Linked DNA regions of Homo sapiens. The protein of the gene in region 2 binds, or shares a complex with, the protein of the main gene of each other region. Each region holds a gene or a part of one and is shown on either strand. Other genes may lie near its edges. A codon is read from its position in the direction of its gene.

Region 1 (7,196 bases), on a different chromosome or scaffold from region 2:
CCTATCCATCATCTCAAATATTTGACATTTTTGTCAAATGAGAGCATTTGGGATTTACTATTTAGCTATATTCATCATGCTATGAAACACATCTCAAAAAAAACAATCAAACTTATTCCTCCCATCTTAACTGAGGCTTTATATCTTGATTACCATCTCCCCATTCCTCCCACCCCCCAGCTCTAGTAACCACCATTCTACTCTTTACTGCTAAGAATGTAATTGTTTTATATTTCACAGATAAGTGAGAACATGTGATATTTGTCTTTCTGTGTTTGGCTTATTTCATTTAGCATAATGCTCTCCAATTCCAAAACTTCAATTTCTTCAAGTATAAAATAAGAAGGCTAGTTTAATTAACCCTAAAATTCCTTCCTGTGGTAGGCTGAATAATGCCCCCCCACCCCCAATGTCTATGTCCTAATCCTCAAAAACTTTTAATACATTAACTTATGTGGCAAAAGAGGCTTTGCAGATGTGATTTAATTAATGGTCTTGAGGGAGATTATCCAGAATTTTCAGGGTGGGCCCAACATAACCCCAAGTGTTTTTATTAGAGGGTCACAGTCAGAGAGAAGATACAAGAATGGAAGCACAGGCCACAGAGAAAATACAGAGACCATGAGCCAAGGAATTTGATGGTCACTAGAAGCTGGAAAAGACAAGGAAACAGATTGCCCCTTAGAGTTTCCAAAAGGAATGAAACCTTGTGGACCCATTTTTGACTTCTGATCTCTAGAACTGTAAAATAATAATTTTGTGTTTGTTTTAGCTAACACATTTGTGATAATTTGTAACAGCAGCAGTAGGAAACTAAAACACTTCCCAGGTTTATGATTTGAGAGTTCATTAAACAAGAGATGGTCACCTCTTTGGTTCCTAAATCATCTTGGAAACAAAGCCATTTCCAGAGAGGAATTTTAAAATACTGTCTGCAGTCATAGCAACCTTAAAATTTGAGTGCTGCATGGTGGAAGTAGACAATTTATTTTAGGATAACTGTTATTTGTTATATTAGTTTGAGGATGGTGGTGTTAAAGAGGAGTTACTTATTTTTAGGTACATTTCATACTAAACACAAATTGCATAATTTGCCTAAATCAAGGAATTATACTAAATTATATTATGGTTATTAAATCCTGTCCTGAGAAAGTGAAACTGACTCAGTTTTCAAAGAGACAAAGAGAAAGTATAAGCAAACCAAATTGCAGCTACAAAAAGAAAGACAAAATGTTGCAGTATATTTATTGTTTTGTGTATTCAATGAAGTCCTTCGTCTTGGTCATAAAACTAGCCTTAAAGGTTTTTCTTATATTTCATAGTATGAAAAATCTAAAAAGTAACCCATATGTAAATATTTAAATCATGATAGAAATCCAAAGCAAAAAGAAAATGAATCAATTGAATTAAAATGTGTAGGATGCTTAAACCCATTTGATAATATATCCATTTGATAATATACTAATATGAATTTAGTACTTTAAAATGTTATATAAATAAATGTTCCTATATTAAACACCAATGTAGTTAGGATTCTAAGCCAACATCATTTCCCCTTTTCTACATGTTCTTCTCCCGTCTCCATTAAAAATTGTCAAAACTATCCACTTTTCTTTTTCCTTTTTGTTTTTAAACAAATAAGGTCTCTTCTAAGATATTGTAGGACTACAAAGCCAAACTCCCGGGTTCAAGCTGTTGGCAAAATTTTAGAGATGCTAAGTTACCCATGTATTAATTACTTTTAAATCCTCCCCTAACTCCCTCACAAAACAGGAGTAGGGAGAGGAGAAACACCTCTGTTCAAAAATGAGGAATTGAAAACTCTTATCACAAATAAACTATATCAAGTAAGCTAAAGATAGTAAAAGAGCAAAAATGTTAGCAGATATTCCCAAAATGGTAACTACATATTACCTCTGGAATGATCACATGAATGTGGCTCATTATTTCCTAAGTTCCTACAGCAAACATATATTTATTTGCCCTACTCAGTTAAAAATAAACACAATATGTAGTTGCTTCTGAATAATTTTTCTCTCTCTCTTTCTCTCTTTCTTTCTTTCGACAAAGTCTCACTCTGTCACCCAGGCTGGAGTGAAGTGGCTCCATCTCGCTGTTCACTACAACCTCAGCCTCCCGGGTTCAAGCGATTCTCCTGCCTCAACCTCCCGAGTAGCTGGGATTACAGGCGCCTGCCACCACCCCCGGCTACTTTTTGTATTTTTAGTAGAGGCGAGGTTTCACCTGTTGGCCAGGCTGGTCTCGAACTCCCGACCTCAGGTGATTCCCCCCGCCTTGATCTCCCAAAGTGAAGGGATTACAAGGCGTGAGGCACCGCGCCCGGCCGCTTCTGAATAATTTCGATCAAAATTTATATTCGATATTTATTCCAACATACACCACAGATTTCCACTGATAATCCCTCCTAGTAAGAAAGATAAGCTCCATCCAGGTATCTGTGAATTGGAGGCTAAGTAGTCCCAGCACATCTTACATTTCTTTAAGACTCCCTTTTTATCCCAAACGTTCGTAAATTTTGTATCTGATAAAGAGCATACTTCCATCTAATACAAATATGTTCCCCCCTTCAGATCTTCTCAGCATTCGAGAGATCTGTACGCGCGTGGCTCCTCATTCCTCTTCCTTGGCTTCCCAAGCCCCCAGGGCGTCGCCAGGAGGAGGTCTGTGATTACAAACCCCTTCTGAAAACTCCCCAGGAAGCCTCCCCTTTTTCCGGAGAATCGAAGCGCTACCTGATTCCAATTCCCCTGCAAACTTCGTCCTCCAGAGTCGCCCGCCATCCCCTGCTCCCGCTGCAGACCCTCTACCCACCTGGATCGGCCTCCGACCGTAACTATTCGGTGCGTTGGGCAGCGCCCCCGCCTCCAGCAGCGCCCGCACCTCCTCTACCCGACCCCGGGCCGCGGCCGTGGCCAGCCAGTCAGCCGAAGGCTCCATGCTGCTCCCCGCCGCCGGCTCCATGCTGCTCCCCGCCGCCCGCTGCCTGCTCTCCCCCTCTCCGCAGCCGCCGAGCGCACGCGGTCCGCCCCACCCTCTGGTGACCAGCCAGCCCCTCCTCTTTCTTCCTCCGGTGCTGGCGGAAGAGCCCCCTCCGACCCTGTCCCTCAAATCCTCTGGAGGGACCGCGGTATCTTTCCAGGCAAGGGGACGCCGTGAGCGAGTGCTCGGAGGAGGTGCTATTAACTCCGAGCACTTAGCGAATGTGGCACCCCTGAAGTCGCCCCAGGTTGGGTCTCCCCCGGGGGCACCAGCCGGAAGCAGCCCTCGCCAGAGCCAGCGTTGGCAAGGAAGGAGGACTGGGCTCCTCCCCACCTGCCCCCCACACCGCCCTCCGGCCTCCCTGCTCCCAGCCGCGCTCCCCCGCCTGCCAGCAAAGGCGTGTTTGAGTGCGTTCACTCTGTTAAAAAGAAATCCGCCCCCGCCCCGTTTCCTTCCTCCGCGATACAACCTTCCTAACTGCCAAATTGAATCGGGGTGTTTGGTGTCATAGGGAAAGTATGGCTTCTTCTTTTAATCATAAGAAAAAGCAAAACTATTCTTTCCTAGTTGTGAGAGCCCCACCGAGAATCGAAATCACCTGTACGACTAGAAAGTGTCCCCCTACCCCCTCAACCCTTGATTTTCAGGAGCGCGGGGTTCACTAAGTCAGAAACCCTAGTTCAAAGGATTCCTTTTGGAGAGTCGGACTGCTCTCTCCTTCCCCTCCCCTTCCCCTCCTGCGTGTAAAACGGCTGTCTGGGGCAAGGGTTTCTCAGACGTGTACATTGCCTGGTATAAGAGCAGACTCTGAAAAGATGAGGTTTATTTAATACGGACGGGGGAGAATTCTGCCTGTAGGCAGATAGGAAAATGGGGAGGGAGTCATTGGAAGGACGGACTCCATTCTCAAAGTCATAATTCCTAGACCAGAAAAAGTGCTCAGTGTTCTAGAAGCAGAGTTGCACAGTGATCCAAAGACCAGCTTCAAATACTGTCCTGTCTCCTTCACACTTCTCACATTTCTCTTTCCTACTGAAAATACCTTGCATTTTTCGTAATTATAAAGGGGGAAGGGAATATGAGTGCCCCCTGCTTTATAGGGGTTGTTGTGAGTTTAAATGATGTATTAATACATATAAGCCTTAAGAACAGTGCCACACATCCTAAGCTAATACCTGTTAGCTCTTGAATTATCCGCTTTGAGGACTGGCTTGCAATCTTGTTTTGAGGCATAGAAAGAAAATGCTTTGGAGCAGGACGCGGTGGCTCACACCTGTAATCCCAGCACTTTGGGAAGCCGAGGCGGGCAGATCACCTGAGGTCAGGAGTTCGAGGCCAGCTTGGCCAAAATGGTGACACCCCGTCTCTACTAAAAATACAAAAATTAGCTGGCCATGGTGGCGCACGTGTGTAATTCCAGCTACTCAGGAGGCTGAGGCAGGAGAATCGCTTGAACCCGGGAGGCAGAGGTTGCAGTAAGCCGAGATCGCGCCACCACCCTCCAGCCTGGGTGACAGAATGAGACTCCGACTCAAAAAAAAAAAAAAAAATGCTTTGGATAGAATTATCACTATTACATAAAAGGAAAGTCCGGATGCGGTGGCTCACGTCTATAATCCCAGCATTCTGGGAGGCCGAGACAGGCGGATCACCTGAGGCCAGGAGTTCGAGACAAGCCTGACCAACATGGCGAAACCCTGTCTCTACTAAAAAATACAAAATTAGCGGGGCTTGGTGGCGCATGCCTGTAATCCCAGCTACTCGGAGGCTGATGTAGGAGAATCGCTTGAACCCAGGAGAAGGCGGAGGTTGCAGTGAGCCGAGATCGCGCCATTGCACTCCAGCCTGGGAGACAAGAGCGAAACTTGGTCTCAAGAAAAAAAGAAAGAAAGAAAGAAAGAAAGACCAAGAAGAACTTACTCCCTGAAAAGATTATGGGCACCCTCCACCACCCTCACTTACAAAGAAAAGTTAAACAGCACTAAAGAGTATAACAAGCGCAAGGAGGTAAAAGTTCTAATTTTTCCTGTGACTACTACTTTTTAAGCTTATCAAAAACATGTACTACGTTTTAAAAAATGGATTGCTCAGACTTTGCTGATGCCTTAAGCACATGCTTAATCTGCCTACTGGATAATCCAGCTCTGTTTAAAAGTTATATTTCAATCCCTGGTTGACTTAAACCTTGTAGACCCAGTATATCTTGTACTTTTAGTGTCTGCTTGATTTTAAAACATGTAGTTTTTAAAATGAAGCCAATGAAAACAATTTGGGATGTCAAGTATGTTATTAAAATCTACAATGCATTACTGTACCATTTATATTTTCCTCGGGGTACCTCTCAATTAGCTGTGTAGCAATGATAGGGAAAATTCAAACTATCGATAAATAAAATTATTTTAGTTTAGTTTAAGATATTTTATGATGGAGGAGGAAGAAAGTGGTTGCCAGGATGGGAGGGAGGGAACACATTTCCATCACTAATACAATGGTTCTTTCTTTTTGTTTGTTTGTTTTGTGTGTTTTTTTGAGATGGAGTTTCGCTCTGTTGCCCAGGCTGGAGTGAAATGGCACCGCACGATCTCTCTCGGTTCACTGCAACCTCCGCCTCCCGGGTTCGAGCAATTCTCCTGCCTCAGCCTCCCGAGTAGCTGGGATTACAGGCACATGCTGCCATACCCAGCTAATTTTTGTATTATTAGTAGAGACGGGGTTTCACTATGTTGGCTAGGCTTGTCTCGAACTCCTGACCTCAGGTGATCCACCCACCTTAGCCTCCCAAAGTGCTGGGATTACAGGCATGAGCCATCGTGCCCGGCCTACAGTGGTTCTTAATGGGGGTGGGAGAGTGGGAAGAGTAGGCTCCTTCAAGAGTCTGTTGAAATAAATACCTTCTTCTCAAAAAAGAAAGTAGGTAATGATTTTTTTTAAAAAAGATGTGTTCACTTGCACATGTATTTCTAGATAAAACTTTCAGTGAATTCAGGGATTTCTCTGAAACTCTACCATGGATTCCTACATCAAGAACTCTTTCAGCTCTTGTGAAAAATATATATAGCTATTGGTGAAGAAGATGGGAGATGCAACCATATAAAAACAACATTTGGATGCATTATAAACAGGTGTAAAAGTTGACTGCTTTGGAAATACCAAGAACAAGTTTTAGATATGTATATCTCATATCTTGCAGTAGAGCTCTGGAAGGATTATGGCATCCTTGGGTGGGGCCATTTTGCTCTAGAAATTGAAGTCCATTATCCATTATAAATCTTATGTAGGGGGGAGGGGGGAGGGATAGCATTAGGAGATATACCTAATGCTAAATGATGAGTTGATGGGTGCAGCACACCAACATGGCACATGTATACATATGTAACAAACCTGCACATTGTGCACATGTACTCTAAAACTTAAAGTATAAATAATAATAAAATTAAAAAAATATTATGTAAATAATTAATAATAGTGGGAAAACTTTCCTAGTTTTTCTGTTAAAGAGCCCATTATACTCCCAGTTTACTCATACATATCGACCTGAGGTGCAAAATCCTAGAAGAATGAAAATATAAAGTCCTGGATCTCTGTGCTCCTTATGCCAGTCTCAGATTTCCTATGTGCAAAATGGGATTATAATATATTTCATGTGGCCATAAAATATGATAATGTATGTCCAAAAGCTTTTAATGTAAAAATTTACTACATTTACTAAATTTACTAAAGTTTGTTGGTTATTGTTATTATTATTCTCACACTTACTTTTCCTCTTTCCTGAGAATGCCATTCTTTTTTTAGATTTGCACTGCCTTTGCAGTTTTGAAAATTCTACACGTGAAATTTAAACCTGTCTTAATTCTGATCAGTCTTATAACAAAAAAAGACTACCACCTGTTCATTCATTCAACAAGCTCAGAAACTAAGGGCAGACATGGGGTGGGGGCAGAGGGGAGTAGGTCAAACATAGTATCTCTACAGTCAGACTGCCAGGGTTCAAACCTCAACTGTTCCACTTATTGGTTCTTTAACTTTTATCAAAGTTACTCAACATGTCTGGGCCTCTGTTTTCTCATTTGCATGATTAGGATAATAACTGTACTTGCCTCAAACAGTTGTTTAGGGATTAAATGAAGCATGTAACGCTCTTAGAAGAGCAAAATAAAGCACAGAATGATACAAGAAAATGAAAAGGTGACCAAACT
Region 2 (5,347 bases):
ATCCCCTAACAATGCATCTCTCAGACTGTATCTCAGTCATTAAGCAACGCATGATTGTTGAATGAGTTCTTTTTTTTTTTTGAGATGGAGTCTTGCTCTGTTGCTTAGGCAGGAGTGCAGTGGCGCCATCTTAGGTCACTGCAACCTCCACTTCCCAGGTTCAAGTGATTCTCCTGCCTCAGTCTCCTGAGTAGCTGGGATTACAGGCGCGTGCCACCATGCCCGGCTAGTTTTCATGTATTTTTAGTAGACACAGGGTTTCACCACGTTGGCCAGCCTGGTCTTGAACTCCTGACCTCTGGTGATCTGCCTGCCTCGGCCTCCCAAAGTACTGGGATTAAAGGCATGAGCCACCGTGCCCGGCCAATTGTTGAATGAGTTCTAAGCTCACTTAGCTGTTATTTACTTTTTAAACACTAGAAGCCTGAAAAGGAATCTCTTAAAGTAAAACTTTAAAACACATTCTTTCTACCACATGGCCAGGTTGCAAATAAGAAGCACCAAAAAAAAAAAAAAAAAAAAAAAAAGAAAGAAAAAAAACACATTCTGCTAAAACTTGGAATTTAATGAATTTTACTCACTACAGTTATACTCATTTTACATTAAAGTAAAAAAGAAAATAGCCAGGAGAGTAATTCATCTCCAGAAAGCAGTTTAAAGTTATTGTTTTTATTATTTTTATTTGCTACCAATATTTTTATTGTAAGAAATACAAAAGGTATTACAAATATACAAACTATTTGCTCTTTTTGCCTCATTCAATTTAGCTTTCACATAAGTGAACACATTGGACAGTGATATTTCAACACCAATTTTGAAAAAAACAATGAACTTCATCATCTGACAATAAATACCTACATTTTCATTCTAGCACCCAGTAAGACATCCAGTTTCCAAAGGATTATTGGTATGCAACCCTCTGAATTTTCTGACATGTTACCTTTGCCACTGCAACAGAAACACCACTGCAGTTCTCCCTTTCCCAATAAGTCAGAGTAAGGGGCAGGTAAGAATGGCTATCTGACTTCAGAAACCCTGGGTCACAAAGCATCCCTTACTTGAGCTACTTTTAAAACCAGATTTTTAATGATAGGGTACTTAAAGTTTTGGTGGTCCTTGAATGACATATTTTACGTTACATATTTACCCTACTTTTCTATTCTCCTCCTCAGATAGGAAGGGTATAGATAAACTGGCTATATTTTCATCTGCCTCTTGGGAAAGGAGCAAGAGCATTCAGCTCAGAGCATTCTGAAGACAGTAGCCTTAGAGATAAGCTTTCTTTCTTTCTTCTTCTTTTGCTTCAAGAGGGCTTTCTGTGTGTAATGGAGGGATGGTTGCTAGAGTGAGACAGCCCTTCCCCTCTTGCTATGTCTATACCATACCTGAGGCCATTTTTCTTAGAGGGCAAAAACGTTAGAATAGGTAGGAAGGTTCTTGCTTTCAGAGAGCTGTGCTGCACCCACAGGGTGGACCCGACAGGCCACTGTGGTAACTCTCAATCTGTGTACAGAGAAAAGAGAAGCAACATCTGATACAAAGTCACCTGCCAACATTCTTATAAGACTGTGTCCCAGGCAGTGAATTTCCACACTGCTTCTTGGGTCTGCAGAACTCAAAGCACCAAAACAGAGCATTCTGTAGCAATATAAGCAAACGGAATAAGAATAATTATGCACCTTTAAGGAACATGCACCCTTATAAGTCTGTACCCTGATATGAAAATAGCAGAATGAATTTCAAGTATGAAGAAATACAGTAAAAGTGTGGCCTGTAGATGGAGAGAAAACAGCAGCCTGGAATGTGGTTTATATTCTTGATTAGTTTTTCTCTTGGTACCACAGCCAAAACTGAATGCTCTGTACAATGACTTGGTTTAAAAATCAAGATGCATACAAAGATGCTAGAGGCATTTCTAATGGGTGCCATGAGCACAGTCTGTGCCCAGCATCAGGAACCATCTCTAGATGAATGTGGCTAGGTCAAGTTGGGAGTGGTGGCCAGGCCTAGACAGGCACACCTGTGGTCCATGATGTGGAGGAAGATGGAGAGCACCATGTGGACAAGCCAGGATGGTAGCAGGGAACACTTTAGTGGTAGAAAGGAAGAGATACAGGGGACAGAGATGTAGAGGTGTGGGGATGTTGGTCATCTTGGGCTGGTTCACACAGCCTAGATGAGTATCTGATATACACAATTTCTACATTTCTAGAACCATGATTTCAAACACAGAAACTAACAAGTCAAATTTCCAAATTAGATTTTTTTTTTTTACTTTCAAAACATTTTCTATTATAAGTCAGAAGGAAAAAAGCTTACTGTATGTGACAGTCTTCCTGAAACCTAAGAGAAAGTTTTAACCAGGCCCTATGGCAATGCAGAAACACTAATACATTTTACAGTGAAAACCTACTTTAACACATCTCAAAATGATAATCGTATAAAACTTTCTAGTTCTAATTTGCACTCTACGTGAACCAATATTTTTCTTTTCTTAACACATACTGCTCTTCTATACCAAACACTTGCCCTTTAACCTTCAGATAAAAACCTCAAATACCAAAAAATGCAACAAGCTTTTGAGGTGTTGGGAATTGTTGGTTGTTAAAATCCCTTTTATTTTATAATAAATTATACAGGCAATCCTTGCTTTTTATTACCACACTGGATTGCTTCTGTACACAGCTAAGTTGCCTGAAGCATGGAAACTTGGACTTCTCCATCTGACACGTTCTGGAAGCCTCAAGGCACAAGCTGACAGTTCTGCTTCTACAGAAAAACTCTCACACTGCTCTCCTCTCAACAGTACTGCCTGTTCCCACTACTCCACATGACACCTACGAGGGCACTACATCACGTGAGGGAAGCTTCTTCATGAGGGCAGACAAGAGGAGGCACCACCCAGGCACTGGTCTCTGCCTGGCATCTATTCCGAGGGCCACCTGGCACAGTTTCTAAATTAAGGCATATCTAAAATGCTTTTCTACCTTTAGTTTTTATTTTTGCTATATTTTTGCACTCTACTATATGCATATTTAATAAAAACAACTACAAAGTCCTTTACTTTAATTCCTTTACATAATGATAAAACACCTAGATACCCAAAATACTACATCTATATATTCAAATCTACTAATCATGTTACAAATGCATGCAGCTTATTTGGGGGCTTAGTCTAATTTTTATTTTCTTAGGTCCATCAATACCATGATAATGAACATTAGATGCAAAATCCTAACACTTTCTGCCTTCAGTTGTACTTTCACAGGACTAGTGTGATTCAGAAATAAATAACATACATGAATAATAATAGAAATAATTTATGCAAATGTAGAACAACTTGAAAAAAAATCCCCCGCCTGTCAGGTGCTGTTCCTGGGGGTAGCTGATGCTATAAATTCCATGTACTAACTAATATATTTACTACAGGTAATAGGAAAACAAATGAATAAAAAGTGAGGAACTATGATATACATGTGTATATTTTTGCAAACACAGGATCAGAATGAAAAGATATATCATGCACTGTGAGGTTTAAGAAATGTATTACTGCTGGGATTTGTTTTATTATTCAGACTTTAAGATCAAACTGAGAGTTGTTGGTGATCACAGAAATATTGCTAGCTGATACATATTATTGCATTTCATAAAACTTAAGATTAGAAACTTTCAAGTAAGGGTACAACGGGTATCTTCAGAACTTTAACCTAAGCACATCAACGGAATTTTTCTAGGGACCACAGAGAGTTAGAAATTAAATAATTGTGTGGCTCTATGTGTGCTGATTAGTGCTACAGTCATAGTTCTTGGCAGTCAATATGTAGTTATATGCCCCCTTTGAGAAAAACCTACATTTGACAATCCAAACTCCTAAAATTGAGAAAGGGTTATTTGTGTGACCAAACAACTCACACGGAAGATTCCTCTCAACATGAAAATCCCCTGCTACATGAGATAATTTGTTTACATACCTTTAATTACCTAACAAAGAAAAAGAGAGAAAAGAAACTGGAAGCTAAAGAATTGAGAGCTTTTGCCAACTGAAGACGAAGCAGAAAATAAACTTTTCAAAACAAAACTTTTCCAGGCATATCTTTCACCATCACATATATAGAATGATGGAAAATAAAAAAATAAAAAAAAATTCCTGCAATTATACATCTTTTCTTTAAAAAAACAAAAACAAAAACAAAAACTGAGCTTAGCGCCTGAGAGATGCGGGGTAGACAGCTTCACACAGGGCAGCTGCTACCGCATCTCTTTTTACCCGAACTTTCGGAGAATTGTGTTGTACTTATTTATGCACAGAAGACACCCGTTTGCTACTAGGGACATTTTTCTTCCTAAGATTTGCAGAACAGATGCCTCTGAGACAGCAGCAGGGCACTCTGACCTCGGAAAGCAGCCCGCGGGGCCGCACATAATTTCAGGCACCGGCAGGTGAGTGGGAGGCGGGGCCCCAGCCCGGCCTCGCCCACTGCCTCTCTCCTGCCAAAGGGGCGGGGCAACGAGGCAGCGCGCCCGGAAGGCTTTCAAGTGGGAATCAAGTTTTGAGCACGAGCAAATGGGGTTCAGACTGGCCACTGTTATAACAAACCCTGGGGTGGAATTCGGCCTTTCGCATAGGGGCTTTAACTGGACTCTAGTTCCTGGGAGCAGAGGGGCGAATGAGGCGGGGGATTTCTCAGCCAGTTTCTGACTGCCCCTAGTGTATGTGGCATTTTGGTTCAGTATGAATTACTGAGACTCATCTGCTTGCCACTCAGGAGGAAAGTTGGGCAGGCACCGTCGAGTGTCTGCCACTCAAAAGGAATAAGCTGCTTTCTGTGGTGCTGTGCTAAGGAAACTGAAAAATACTGCAATATCCTTCCCTACTAAATTTCAAGTGACACTGCTGTGAGAAAGGTGACCTCTAAAATTAACTTAATCATTTGGGGTATAAGAAGTCTTTAAGTAGACTTGTAAATTTAAAAAAAGTATATAAAGTTGCCAAAAAACTTCAAAAGTTAAGTATGTAGACACACTCCTAAGTTGTTATGCTCATATACTTCAGACTTTTTTTTTTTAATTAGAGCTTCTTATGAATTTACATTTGTGATTCCACAAATGTTAAAATTACCTGGTCTTTTGGTATTTTAGGGCTCTGTTTCAATACAGCAATTTTTCAGACAAAAGTTTTGTCTACTGAATTACTGATGTGCTACTCATTTTGCTCACCTGATCTTTAAATTAGGATTTTAAAATTTAATCAATGTTGAAAGGCCACCATGCTAGGGAATTTGAAAGCAGCAGAGAGGGTATGTGTGTTTTAACTGGGGCCACTAAAGGAGTTTTATACTTCTAACGA

What was found.
Region 1: the proteins of CDK6 (region 2) and CDKN2A are in contact, whole or in part, in a crystal structure (PDB 1BI7), measured with the Homo sapiens proteins. Residues at the interface, in NP_001138778.1 of Homo sapiens: Glu14, Cys15, Val16, Ala17, Glu18, Ile19, Phe28, Lys29, Arg31, Leu33, Asn35, Gly36, Gly37, Arg38, Phe39, Arg44, His100, Asp102, Gln103, Asp104, Thr106, Thr107, Asp110, Lys111, Gln149, Thr154, Ser155, Leu166, Ala167, Arg168; in NP_000068.1 of Homo sapiens: Thr18 (codon at 2,931), Ala21 (codon at 2,922), Arg22 (codon at 2,919), Gly23 (codon at 2,916), Arg24 (codon at 2,913), Glu27 (codon at 2,904), Asn42 (codon at 2,859), Tyr44 (codon at 2,853), Arg46 (codon at 2,847), Gln50 (codon at 2,835), Val51, Met52, Met53, Met54, Gly55, Ser56, Arg58, Asp74, Ala76, Thr77, Thr79, Asp84, Arg87, Glu88, Gly89, Phe90, Asp92, Asp108, Trp110, His123.

Annotation. Positions count from the first base shown.
Region 1 is NC_000009.12:21,971,846-21,979,041, forward strand, and holds the start of CDKN2A (cyclin-dependent kinase inhibitor 2A), read right to left. Parts: upstream 3,013-7,196; 5' UTR 2,983-3,012; coding exon 2,833-2,982; coding exon of another isoform or gene 2,632-2,832; exon of another isoform or gene 2,559-2,631; intron 1-2,558. UniProt on the Homo sapiens protein: Acts as a negative regulator of the proliferation of normal cells by interacting strongly with CDK4 and CDK6. This inhibits their ability to interact with cyclins D and to phosphorylate the retinoblastoma protein.
Region 2 is NC_000007.14:92,604,377-92,609,723, forward strand, and holds the end of CDK6 (cyclin-dependent kinase 6), read right to left. Parts: 3' UTR 545-5,347; downstream 1-544. UniProt on the Homo sapiens protein: Serine/threonine-protein kinase involved in the control of the cell cycle and differentiation; promotes G1/S transition. Phosphorylates pRB/RB1 and NPM1.